Linked DNA regions of Homo sapiens: region 2 is linked to region 1. Evidence: fine-mapped expression QTL. A gene starts in region 1. The other region holds a variant in brackets. All regions are shown on one strand. Distances are between the middles of the regions. Region 1 holds the start of GNG10 (G protein subunit gamma 10). Region 2 overlaps SUSD1 (sushi domain containing 1).

Evidence for each region. PIP is the estimated chance that this variant, and not a neighbour inherited with it, causes the effect.
Region 2: its variant is fine-mapped to the expression of GNG10 in whole blood (TOPMed, PIP 0.95).

Annotation. Positions count from the first base shown.
Region 1 is chr9:111,659,211-111,664,581 of GRCh38, forward strand. It overlaps GNG10 (G protein subunit gamma 10), which reads left to right and starts at 2,395. Exons shown (of 3, transcript NM_001017998.4): 1 at 2,395-2,505. The coding sequence starts at 2,425. All of the region lies in intron 1 of DNAJC25-GNG10 (DNAJC25-GNG10 readthrough), which reads left to right. RefSeq lists enhancers at 1,976-2,035, 3,106-3,205, 3,406-3,455 and silencers at 2,216-2,665, 2,696-2,815.
Region 2 is chr9:112,066,493-112,071,863 of GRCh38, forward strand. The region is part of intron 12 of SUSD1 (sushi domain containing 1); the gene reads right to left. Among named protein-coding and RNA genes, the nearest start is that of LINC02977, 29 kb to the left of the region's middle. The variant T/G (reference allele first, on the strand shown) is at 3,256.

The sequences.
Region 1 (5,371 bases):
CCTGCTACCTCGTGGCTGATACAGTATGACATGGCTGACGTGTGTCCCTTCATTGAGGGCAACTCCAAAGCCTTCATTTCTAATGATTTTGAGGTAATCTCATTATTTCAGCTGCCATTGCTGTGGAGACATCTTCACATTAACATCTTGGCTACTAAACATTTTCAGCAGCCTAAAGGCATGTAGCAATGCCATGGAAGTCACTTCGTTACTCCTAAACCAAACCCCACATTATTTTTTACTCATCTCAAGCCAAGTCTTGTTTCCTAATTTCTGTTTTGGCATTAGTTCTGGCCCACTCTCTGCTACAGAACCCTTTGTCCTCTTTTCTTTGCATTTCATAACCACCATGAAGTACCACTGATTTTGTCTTCTAAATTTGTTCCCCCTCATTCCTACTCTAACAGTCCTACCCAGGGCCTCATTCCAGCTACTCCCCCACCATCAGCCATTTATCTTCTCAACTTCAGTTCATTTTGCACATTCATCTCAGATTAATATTCCCAAAATGCCTTACCCTGTGGCTATCCCACTGTTTACCATAAACTTTTGTGTGTATGTGAGGTTTTCTATGACTTCTGGCCCTAGCAACTTTGTATCTGCTATTAGTCACTAGAGCTTCCTCTATTTTTAAATTTATTCACTCTACATGTGTGCATCGCCTCCAGCTGTCCTCCATACTGGACTGTTCTTCCTTCTGAGCCATCTGCAAGACACGTATCTCCAAAGTCCAGCTCTCACGATCTATGATGAGCCTTTCCTAATCCAGTATGTATATCTTTGCACTGAGTTCTTTGCCATATCTTTTAAATATGAAATCATTCTATTTTGTCCTATTCATCAGTCTCAGAATTGATTGTTGAATGTTCCCAACATGTACTTTCATCTCTTTACTAAGATATATATTAATTTCTTTGTGGTGAGGAAATTGGCCACTAGAGAGGGCTTTCAAATGTGCAAGTCTCCCTTTGGCCCAGGCACAGCTAATCTGAGCACGTCAATGCCACACATCCTTGCCTTCAAAGAGTAATTGGGCCAGGGGTGGGCCCATGACTTAATACCAGCCAGTGAGGTTCATTATGGGGATTTTTGCTGGAACGATTAGAAAGAAAAGAGGTACTATTTTTCCTGGGTTTGCTAGATGGGGACAGTGAAAGTGTGGTGCCTTCCTTCATACCACTAGAGAAGTCCATCTACCACCAAGGAAAATGAGGCTAATCTCAGGAAAAGCAGAATCAAAACAAGGAGGATGAGAGCCCCAAAATTATTATTTGGGTAATTGAATTCACTAGTTTAAAGTCCCTGGACTTTTCAGTTACACAAGCCAATATATTACCTTTTGCAATATTCAGTTTAAGTGAGTTCTGACAAATACAATGGTGTACAAGAATAATGACGTATTAATGATACATGGAAAAAAGCAACACAAAAATTTTAAATATAGTAACGATCCCAGTTTTGTAAAACACTTATTAAAAAATGCAGTAGGCCTATAATGCCAGCACTTTGGGAGGCTGAGGTGGGAGGATCACCTGAGCCCAGGAGTTCAACACCAGCCTGGCCAACATCGTGAAACCCCGTCTCTACTAAAAATACAAAAATTAGCCGGGCGTGGTGGTGTGTGTCTGTAGTCCCAGCTACTCAGGAGGCTGAGGCAGGAGGATCACCTGAGCCCACGAGGTGGAGGCTACAAGGAGCTGTGATCACGCCACTGCACTCCACCCCGGGTGACAGAGCAAGACCCTGTCTCAAAAAAAAAAAAAAAAAAAAAAAAAGCAGCAGAATAGAAACAATGATGACAGTTAAATGGTGAGATGAGAGTGAGAAACGCTGAATTTAATTTTATTCTGTATGTTTCACAAAGATGTCAGGGTCTGGGATTTTATCCAATTTACCATACTCCACCAAATCAACTGGTAGGATCTCCGTGAAACAGTAACAGGGTCATTTAGAAACCTGTTGCTGCCTCATGAAAATCCTATGAACTCTCCTTGGTTCCCCGGTGATACTGTCTGGCAAGGCCCCTTATCTCTCCAACTCATGTCACACCTTGGCTCCAGTTCTCATTTCTCAGGGGTGCGTGTTTGCTGCCGCCCACTCCATCCTCGCGTCCCACGCCCTCGCGATTCCTGCTCATCCTAGGGGCGCCAGCTTCGCTGGAGGACGCCGCGCTCTGCGGGTCCCCGCCTCGGTTCCAGGCCCAGCTGCAGGTGCCACCCAGGTTTCAGGCGCTGAGGAGCGGAGAGCACTGCCAGCTCGCTGGGGTCCCCGCTGTCTCTGGCAAGCGGCTCCGCGCCGGGTGGGCTGGGGCGGCGGGGCGGGCGCAGCTGCTTCCCCGCCCCGGGGCGGCACCCGCGCTCGGGGCTGGCGGCTCCTCCCCGCCCGGCCGGGCCCAGCAGCCCCTAGGAGCCCAGCGCCGCCGCCATGTCCTCCGGGGCTAGCGCGAGCGCCCTGCAGCGCTTGGTAGAGCAGCTCAAGTTGGAGGCTGGCGTGGAGAGGATCAAGGTGCGGGCCCCGGGTACCCACGCTCCGGTCCTTCCGCCCGCGGGGCGTGAGAAGAGGAGGCCGGCGGCCCGGACCGGGCGCCAGCGGGGGACTCGGTGGCGGCGGCGAGGCCTCGGCGGGGCGCGGGGGCGGTGGGGTCCGCGGTGAGGGAGGGCGCGGGGCAAGCCGGGGGCCCGGGCCTGACGGGAGGAAGCCGCGCCTGGGGGGCCCCGCGGTCGTGGTCGGTCCCGGTCCCTGGGGGTGCGCCCACTCCAGAAGGCGGCCGTGGTCAGTTCCTCGGAGGGCGCAAGGGATGCCGGCGACGCGCGGGCCGGGAGGGTGGACCCAGGGCTGGGGAGGCCACCGCAGGGCGGCGAATTGGTGATGGATTGGTAGGATGAGAGCGAGAGGGAGGAGAGCCAGGATGCTCGGGTTTCTGTCGTCGTGACAGGGTGGACGGCGCTGCCACCCGCCGAGGTAGAGAGGAGGGGGAACAGGTTTGGGGAAATGATGAGTTCGGCTGCGGACCTGGGGACTCCGGGGAGTCATCCGGGAGGTATTTGTCCTCATGGCCTGAAGCTCAGCGCCCAGGGCTGAAAGAGGTCATTCAAGTGCATTGGGGCGAAAAAGCCTCTTCTATGAAGAGCAGAGCTCAGAGCCTGGGACCCGGGGACCAGCCACACCGATGGCCGGTGGCCGAGAGAAGAGGAAATAAGAGACAGCAAGGTTTCCGAGCAAGGCCTAGAGAAGAGGAAATAAGAGACAGCAAGGTTTCCGAGCAAGGAAGTAGGGATTTCCAAAAACTGGGGGCTCAGTCAACATGTCCAGCGTTTAGTCAGTTGGCTAAAAGGCGTCTGTTGTAGAGCTGTGTTTAGCTACGAGTGCAGCATTATTTGCAGAAGATCTGTAAGAAGGAACACAACCAGGATAGTCCCTGTGCCTCAGTTTCTCCTTTGCTGTGTGCCTGGCACTGCTACAGGGAATAGGGTGGTTCTGGAGGGGAAGGTAAACAGCAACTTAACGGATACATAGCATCGCTTCATGTACTAAGTGGAGTGAAGATAATAAACAGGGTAAAGGGAGAGAGGGCTGTGGAATGCAGAGGTCTGGTGGCTTATGTGTTAGTAAAAGCAGAATCTGGACTGTCATAGGGTAGGCAGACGTTTTTTCTTTTTAAAGAAACCTAGTTTTAAAGAGGAAATAACGTGTTTTTTTAACTTAGGAAATGAAAAGCCATGTTTTAGGGTTGAGAGGAAGTAACAAATTATATTTTTAGGTTCCAGGGAAGAAACAAATGGAAGCCAATTGCTGGTAGAGGAGACAGGGCTACGGGGGGGTGGGGGATTGGTGGCACAGCTTCTGAGACAGGAAGAAAGAAGGTAAGGGTGTGTGTAAAGATAAGTTTCTAGATATGGGCTAAACTTGTATGGTGACACTTTTCTTTGTGAAATAGGAGGCCAGGTTTTCTTCTAAGGCAGAGGAAAGGGGACTAAGGGAGTGGCCCCTGAGCAGGCACGCAGATGCGCTGTGACTGAAGACCCAGCTGCTGTGACAAGGGAGACTGCTGGTCATATTTGTGATTTTTTTTTTTTCCTGCAGCAATCTTTACCATCCTGGAATGTGAGTGCTGAAGGTGAACGGTAGTTGAAAGAGGAGTAAGTTAGCAGGGGAGGTATGCCAGAAAGGTGGAGGTGGGGCCGGAGGGCAAGGCGTGTGAAGGTCTGGCCAGAAAGAGGCTGAGCCTAGATGGATAGAGAAGGAATGCAGCCAGCCTCCTGGTGATAGGTGAGACAGAAGGGGAGGAGGTGATGCCTGGTGATCTCGGTGAGGTCAGAGCAGAATAAAGGAAGAATAAAGGAGGCAGCACCCTGGATGGGAAGGAGAGATTGTGATCAGAGAGTAGGATACTGGAGTGTAAAATTTCAGAAGTGGAGCAGTTACAGGTGTTGTAACTGTATCTGTTGGCATTGAGGAGAAGGCTGTTTGAGGGGAAGAAGTCAGGGAACTGAAATGAGGGTTGTTGGAAATTCACAAAGACAATGTGGGGACATGAGGTAGAAAGGAAAACTGTGAGCCAGTCAGATGCCTGTCTACCCGCCAAGTAGCTAAGAAAGAGGAAAGATATTCTTTTTTTTTTTTTTTTGAGATGGAGTTTCATTCTTGTTGCCCAGGTTGGAGTGCAATGGCATGATCTCAGCTCACTGCAACCTCTGCCTCCCAGGTTCAAGCGATTCTCCTGCCTCAGCCTCCCGAGTAGCTGGGATTACGGGCACCTGCCACCACGTCCACTAATTGGCTTTTTTTTTTTTTTTGTATTTTTAGTAGAGATGGAGTTTCACCATATTGGCCAGGCTGGTATCGATCTCCTGACCTCAGGTGATCCTCCCGCCTCAAGCTCCCAAAGTGCTGGGATTACAGGCATGAGCCATGGCACCTGGCCGGAAAGATGTGCTTATCTACCTTTTAAAAATGATGATGAAACTGAGAGCCATATAATTCAGGTGAATTGCCTGAGCTCGCAGTAAGCTTATTTACAAATAGGATAATAAGCCTATTTAAGAGGTGCGCTCATGGAAGTATGATCTGGGGTACTTGGCAGGGCTTCCCTCAGACAATACCTTAGAGAGTCACAACCATTCCAGGGTCTGGTCTACCTCACATCCTCATTCATTGTTGGATGTGCTTAGCATAGCCAGAGGTGTCTTCTCTTTGACAGACTTGCTATCTGAAAAATAAACCAGGACACCAATTTTCTAGCATATAATAGAGGACATCCCTTCCCAGCTATAGGAATGCTTGGTATCCTTCCAAGAACTCCTCCTTTAGAGGAGCCTCACAGAAGTTGCTGGGTAAACATGGGCTCAAACCAAGGAAAGTCAGGTAACCT
Region 2 (5,371 bases), 410 kb after region 1:
AGGCAGTGTTCCTAAGTCAGGTCTGGAGTGGCATTCTGCTGAATGAACGGGGCTTGAAAGAAAACAAACCTGGAAGAGACCATGGAAAGCTGCAACCCTGTAATCGCGAAACTCCCAAAGATGGGACACCTTGTGCCTGAGATTCTCCGAGTCCGTACGTGTTGTCTTTTCATATGTTACATACTTTATATGTAAGTGCTCAGCATCCCTTTTTCTGTGGAGAGCGGCCCTTCTCCTTCCCATATGGTTCTTATGGGGCCAGCATTCCCAGTACTCCAAATCCCCACTGGCCCAGGGCCCAGTGATTATGGATTGCCATTCCCCAGTCAGAAGATGGCTCAAAAAGAGCAATCTGTTTAGGAGATTGGAGGTTTTATTTTTTGTTGTTTATCTGTTTTTTTGAGATGGAGTCTCACTCTGTCACCCAGGCTGGAGTACAGTGGCATGATCTTGGCTCACTGCAATCTCTGCCTCCCAGGTTCAAGCTCTTCTTCTACCTCAGCCTCCCGAGTAGCTGGGACTACAAGGCATACACCACCATGCACAGCTAATTTTTGTATTTTTAGTAGAGATGGGGTTTCACCATGTTGGCCAGGCTGGTCTCAACACTCCTCACCTCAGGTGATCCGCCCACCTCTGCCTCCCAAAGTGCTGGGATTACAGGCGTGAGCCACCACACCAGGCCTAGAAGATTGGAGGGTTTTATTCTTCTTCTTAGATTGTAGCTGTAAGTACCAGGTAGGCCAATAGTACAATGTCCATCCTCCCAGGTCTGGCTGGAAGAATTTGGCAGAAAGAGGGCCTCATGGCTGGAAGAGCAACGGGCCTGTGGTGACACCACGTGTGACTGAAGCTTGCTGTCTCCAAACAAGATCCATCCTGGGCCTTCCCAGTTCTGTGATCCCACAGATTCCACATGCTTAAGCTGGTTGGAGTTGGGTTTCTGTCACTTGCAACCAAAAGAGCCCTGACTATAGAATGCATCCAGCGCCTTGGTATTCTGTGGAAAGGCAGAACCCTCAGCTGTGTACTGGCAGGAACTCTGGTGCTAGGCCAAGTGAACACGGTAGGGAAGTGGTCCTTATGCATTTGTGCAAGAAGAATTGCTGTGAATTCCAGGCAAATGCTAAACCCCTTGGGTGGTGGAGACAGTGAGGACAGCAGGAAGAACTGCCTTAAGAATCCCCTTTAGACCCTGGACTAAACCACCCCTCCTTCAAAGTCTATCACTGCATCAGCTCAGTAGGGCAAGGGAGGAAGGGCATGATGGAAGGAAAGAGAAAGAGCTATTAAAAACATATGTATGAATGCCTCCCCCCCAATCCCCCCACCCTAGCCCTAAACCCTGCCACTGTGAACTGAAGGACTCTGAGGCCAAAATAGATTCTCAAGACTGTATTTACCAGATTAGAAAATAGCTTTGGGGTAGAAACCCTCAATCTCAAATTATAATAAATAAAAACTTAGACCTGCCTGGACCTTTACAGTTGTTAAAGCACTACTATATATATTATTCATATATCTGCATTCAACAAACACCCATTAGCCACCTCTGCCGCAGGCTCTGTGCTAGGCTGGGGGAGACAAGCACAGAAGACATGCTTTCTGCTTTCTGGGAGCTTGGAGTGTAATCATGGAGACAGTTTTGTAAAGGTAGTGCCCAGAGCTGTGATGGAGTTATATACAGAGCACTGTGGATGTGAGGAGGAACATCTAACTGAAGGCAGGGAGCTGAGCCTATCAAACACGGAAATAGACATCTGCAGAGGCATGAGGTGGTGGCAGGGAGGGATAGAACTACATGGAGTTCCTGGCTGAAAGGTTGAGGTCTGGCAGAGTAGAAGTAGGTGGTCAAGTTAGAGGGGTAGGTGTGGGTCAGATCTGAGAGATCTGAGGTTCCAGAAGTAATAAGAAGCCATTGAAAGATTTTTAGCAGGCTGGGTGCACTGGCTCATGCCTGTAATCCCAGCACTTGAGGCAAGCAGGTTGTTTGAGGCCAAGAGTTCAAGACCAGCTTGGGCAACATGGTGAAACCTTGTCTCTACAAAAAATGTTTTAAATTAGTCAGGCACAGTGGTGTACACCTGTGATCCCAGCTACTCATGAGGCCAAGGTGGGAGGATTGCTTGAGCCCGGGAGGCAGAGGTTGCAGTGAGCCAAGATTGCACCACTGCACTCCAGCCTGGGCAACAGCTAGACCCTGTCTCAAAAAAAAAAAAAAAAAATATTTTTAGCCGTTCTGCACTTCAAAAATACAACTTAGAGAGCTGATCAAAGGATGAATAGAAAAAGGGCAAAAATACAGGTTGTCCAATAATCCAGGTCGGAAGTGCTCGAGGTCTGCTGCAAGTGAGAGCACTGAGAATGGAGAAGAGGGAACAAACGGAAACCTTGCTCAGGGGAGAGACGGCAGGAATCTGGCAACCAAGTCAGCAGTGATGTCATTTACCAAGTCTGGGGGAAGACGAGAAGCAGCTCACTTCTAGGTCTGTTCAGGTTGAAGTGTATAAGGAATCCTCCAGCAGGCAGTTAGAAACATAGGTCTGGAGCCTAGGAGCAAACCCCATGGTGGAGATACAGAGGCAGCTCACAGGGAGGAGTGAACGTGGCCACCAGGGAGCCAGTATCAAAGTATGTGAGGAGAGATGGGGGCCAAGGGCGGACCACCGAGAAACCCAGGCTCTAAGACCAGGTGGAAGAGTAAGAGAACTCTGTGGCCTTTATGAAACAGTGTTAGGTCTAGAATTTCTCCCAGAGTCTCTTAGACACTGCAATATAGATCATGTTTTTCCTAAACCTGCGGCATTGCCAGGTGTCCCAGGAGGTCACCTGGAAAAGCCTCTGCTTAGAGTCTAGGCCTCACATCACTCATTTGTTGAAATGAAGGTCTATGCTATTTTCAAGAGCAGTCCAGAGAGAGATTCTGTAGGATACAGCTGAGAAGACAACAGCTGGATTCCTGTGGCAGTGATGGAGGAGAGAGGAAAAGCCCACACATGTCCCCTGGGAACGTACCCCTTCCCCTTTGAGATCGAACTGCCCTCAGGCCCTTTGCTATCACCGAAATGCCCTTTCACTTGTGACGTTTTGTTGTCACAGTAAAATTAACTTTTTTTATTACGTGTCTCCTCTTCTCAGCCAAGGTGGAGATTAACTGGTCACTCTTTTCTGTGTGAGAACTCCGCCCCACCCCACCCCGCCCCGCCCCCACCAGCTCTTTACTCCAAGAGTAATAATTCTAGTTCCTCTAATCTC[T/G]TGGCTAACATTTTAAAACCACACAGGAGAAGCAGAACAAAGTACTCACTGAGCTCAGAAGAGGCAACTGCAGACCGAGCAGGAAGGCCATCCCCCTGCTTGGTCCAGGTGATGTCACTCTTTCCCAATCTAGAGTCACAGTTTTCAAGGCACCACAGTCATCTGGTTCAATCAACATGTGACTTTGAGACCATTTTCTGCTCTGTTTGCCTAAGGTCTCCCTGCCCTATATTTTATTTTATTTGTTTTTGTTTTTGTTTTTGCTTTTGCTTTTTGAGATGGAGTTTCGCTCTTGTCGCCCAGGCTGGAGTGCAATGGTGTGATCTCAGCTCACTGCAGCCTCCGCCTCCCGGGCTCAAGCAATTCTCCTGCCACAGCCTCCCGAGTAGCTGGGATTACAGGCATGCACCACCACACACGGCTGATTTTTGTATTTTTAGTAGAGACGGGGTTTCTCCATGTTGGCCAGGCTGGTCCCGAACTCCTGACCCCAGGTGATTCCACCTGCCTCGGCCTCCCAAAGTGCTGGCATTACAGGCATGAGCCACCACGCCCAGCCGCTGCCTTATATTTTAAACAGTCTACTTTTTCTCTCCAATGTACAAGCCTAAGCCTCGTCAGGCTGGTTCTCAGCCACATTTCGAGGTGGAACAAACTTGACTTTCAGCTGAATTTTCCAAGGTGCTCTTCCTTGTCTCCCAAACTGATGTCCTGGGTAGACCTGCTCTCCTTTCCATCAACCTCGTTACTGATTTAAACTGATTTAGACCCAAGGCAAGAAATGGGTCCTGCCTGTGCTGGAAAATATAGCTCTTTCACCTTGGGTGTGTGAGATGGGAGAGGAACCAGAACAGAGACCTTCATTACCATCCTCGGATGTCAGGAATATCCCTCCTCTGCTAGAAGCAAATGGCAAAAGAAATCCTCACATGGAGGGAAATGTGGGGAAAAGTAATGAAGGAGAATTTGCTCTGCAAAAAAAAATATTAAATGTATCATAAAATTACAGCAATTGAAATAGTAAAGTACACGCACAGGACAGACAAACAGTGAAAAAAAGCTAGACAGTCTGGAAAGAGACCCAAAGAAATGCACCAGGTGGCATGGATGGTCAGTAGTTCCAAAGGTGATAGGGAACTGGCTTACAGCTGGGGAGAAAAATTACAATGTAAATTTAGCCTCATATCAGACATCAAAATAAATTCCAAATGAACCTAAGTGGTTTTGTTTTGGTTTTGTTTGTTTGTTTGTTGTAGAAAAGTGGTCTCACTGTGTCGCCCAGGCTGGGGTGCACTGGCATGATCATAGTTCACTGCAGCTTTGAACTCCTGGACTCAAGCAGTCCTCTCTCCTCAGCCTCCTAGAGCGCTGGAATTATAGGAATGTGCCACTGTGCCCAGCCTGAAACTAAATTTTAAGTGCAAAAAAGTAGGTCAGGTGCAGTGGCTCCCACCTATAATCCTGGCTTTTTGGGAGGCCTAGGCAAAAATGATTGCTTGGGCTCAGGAGTTTGAGACCAGCCTGGGCAACATAGTAAGACCTCATCTTTACAAAAAGAAAAAATTAGCAGGGTGTGGTGACATGCACCTGTAGTCTCAGCTACTTGGGAGGCTGAGGCAGGAGGACTGCTTGAGCCCAGGAGTTTGAGGCTGCAGTAAGCTATGATTGTGCCACAGCACTCCAGCCAGGGCAACATAATGAAACTCAGTCTCAAAAAAAATTGAAAAGAAAACAAAAGAGTAAATAGCCTTGGAGTAGGAATTTGTAATATTTATCAAAATATTAATATCACTAATGAAGGTAAACTATTAAATCAACCAAAGAAAAAGGGTAGTATAAGTACAAATGTGTTAAAATGTCTCTATGTAAAACCCATCAAAATGAACAAAAAGAACCAAAAATGGAAGAAAATTTTATCTGCATCAAAACTAAGCAACGTCTCCAACTTTGTACTGCAAACTTCAAGTAAACACAAACAATTGAATTAAAACACAACTCCACCGCCCAAAAACCCAGTACAATGCTACTTTTCTGGATTTTCTATAATAAAAAGTAGGTAGAAAAATAAACACAGCATGATGGTTCTTTTCTAATCCTCAGGCACCTCTCCAGATAT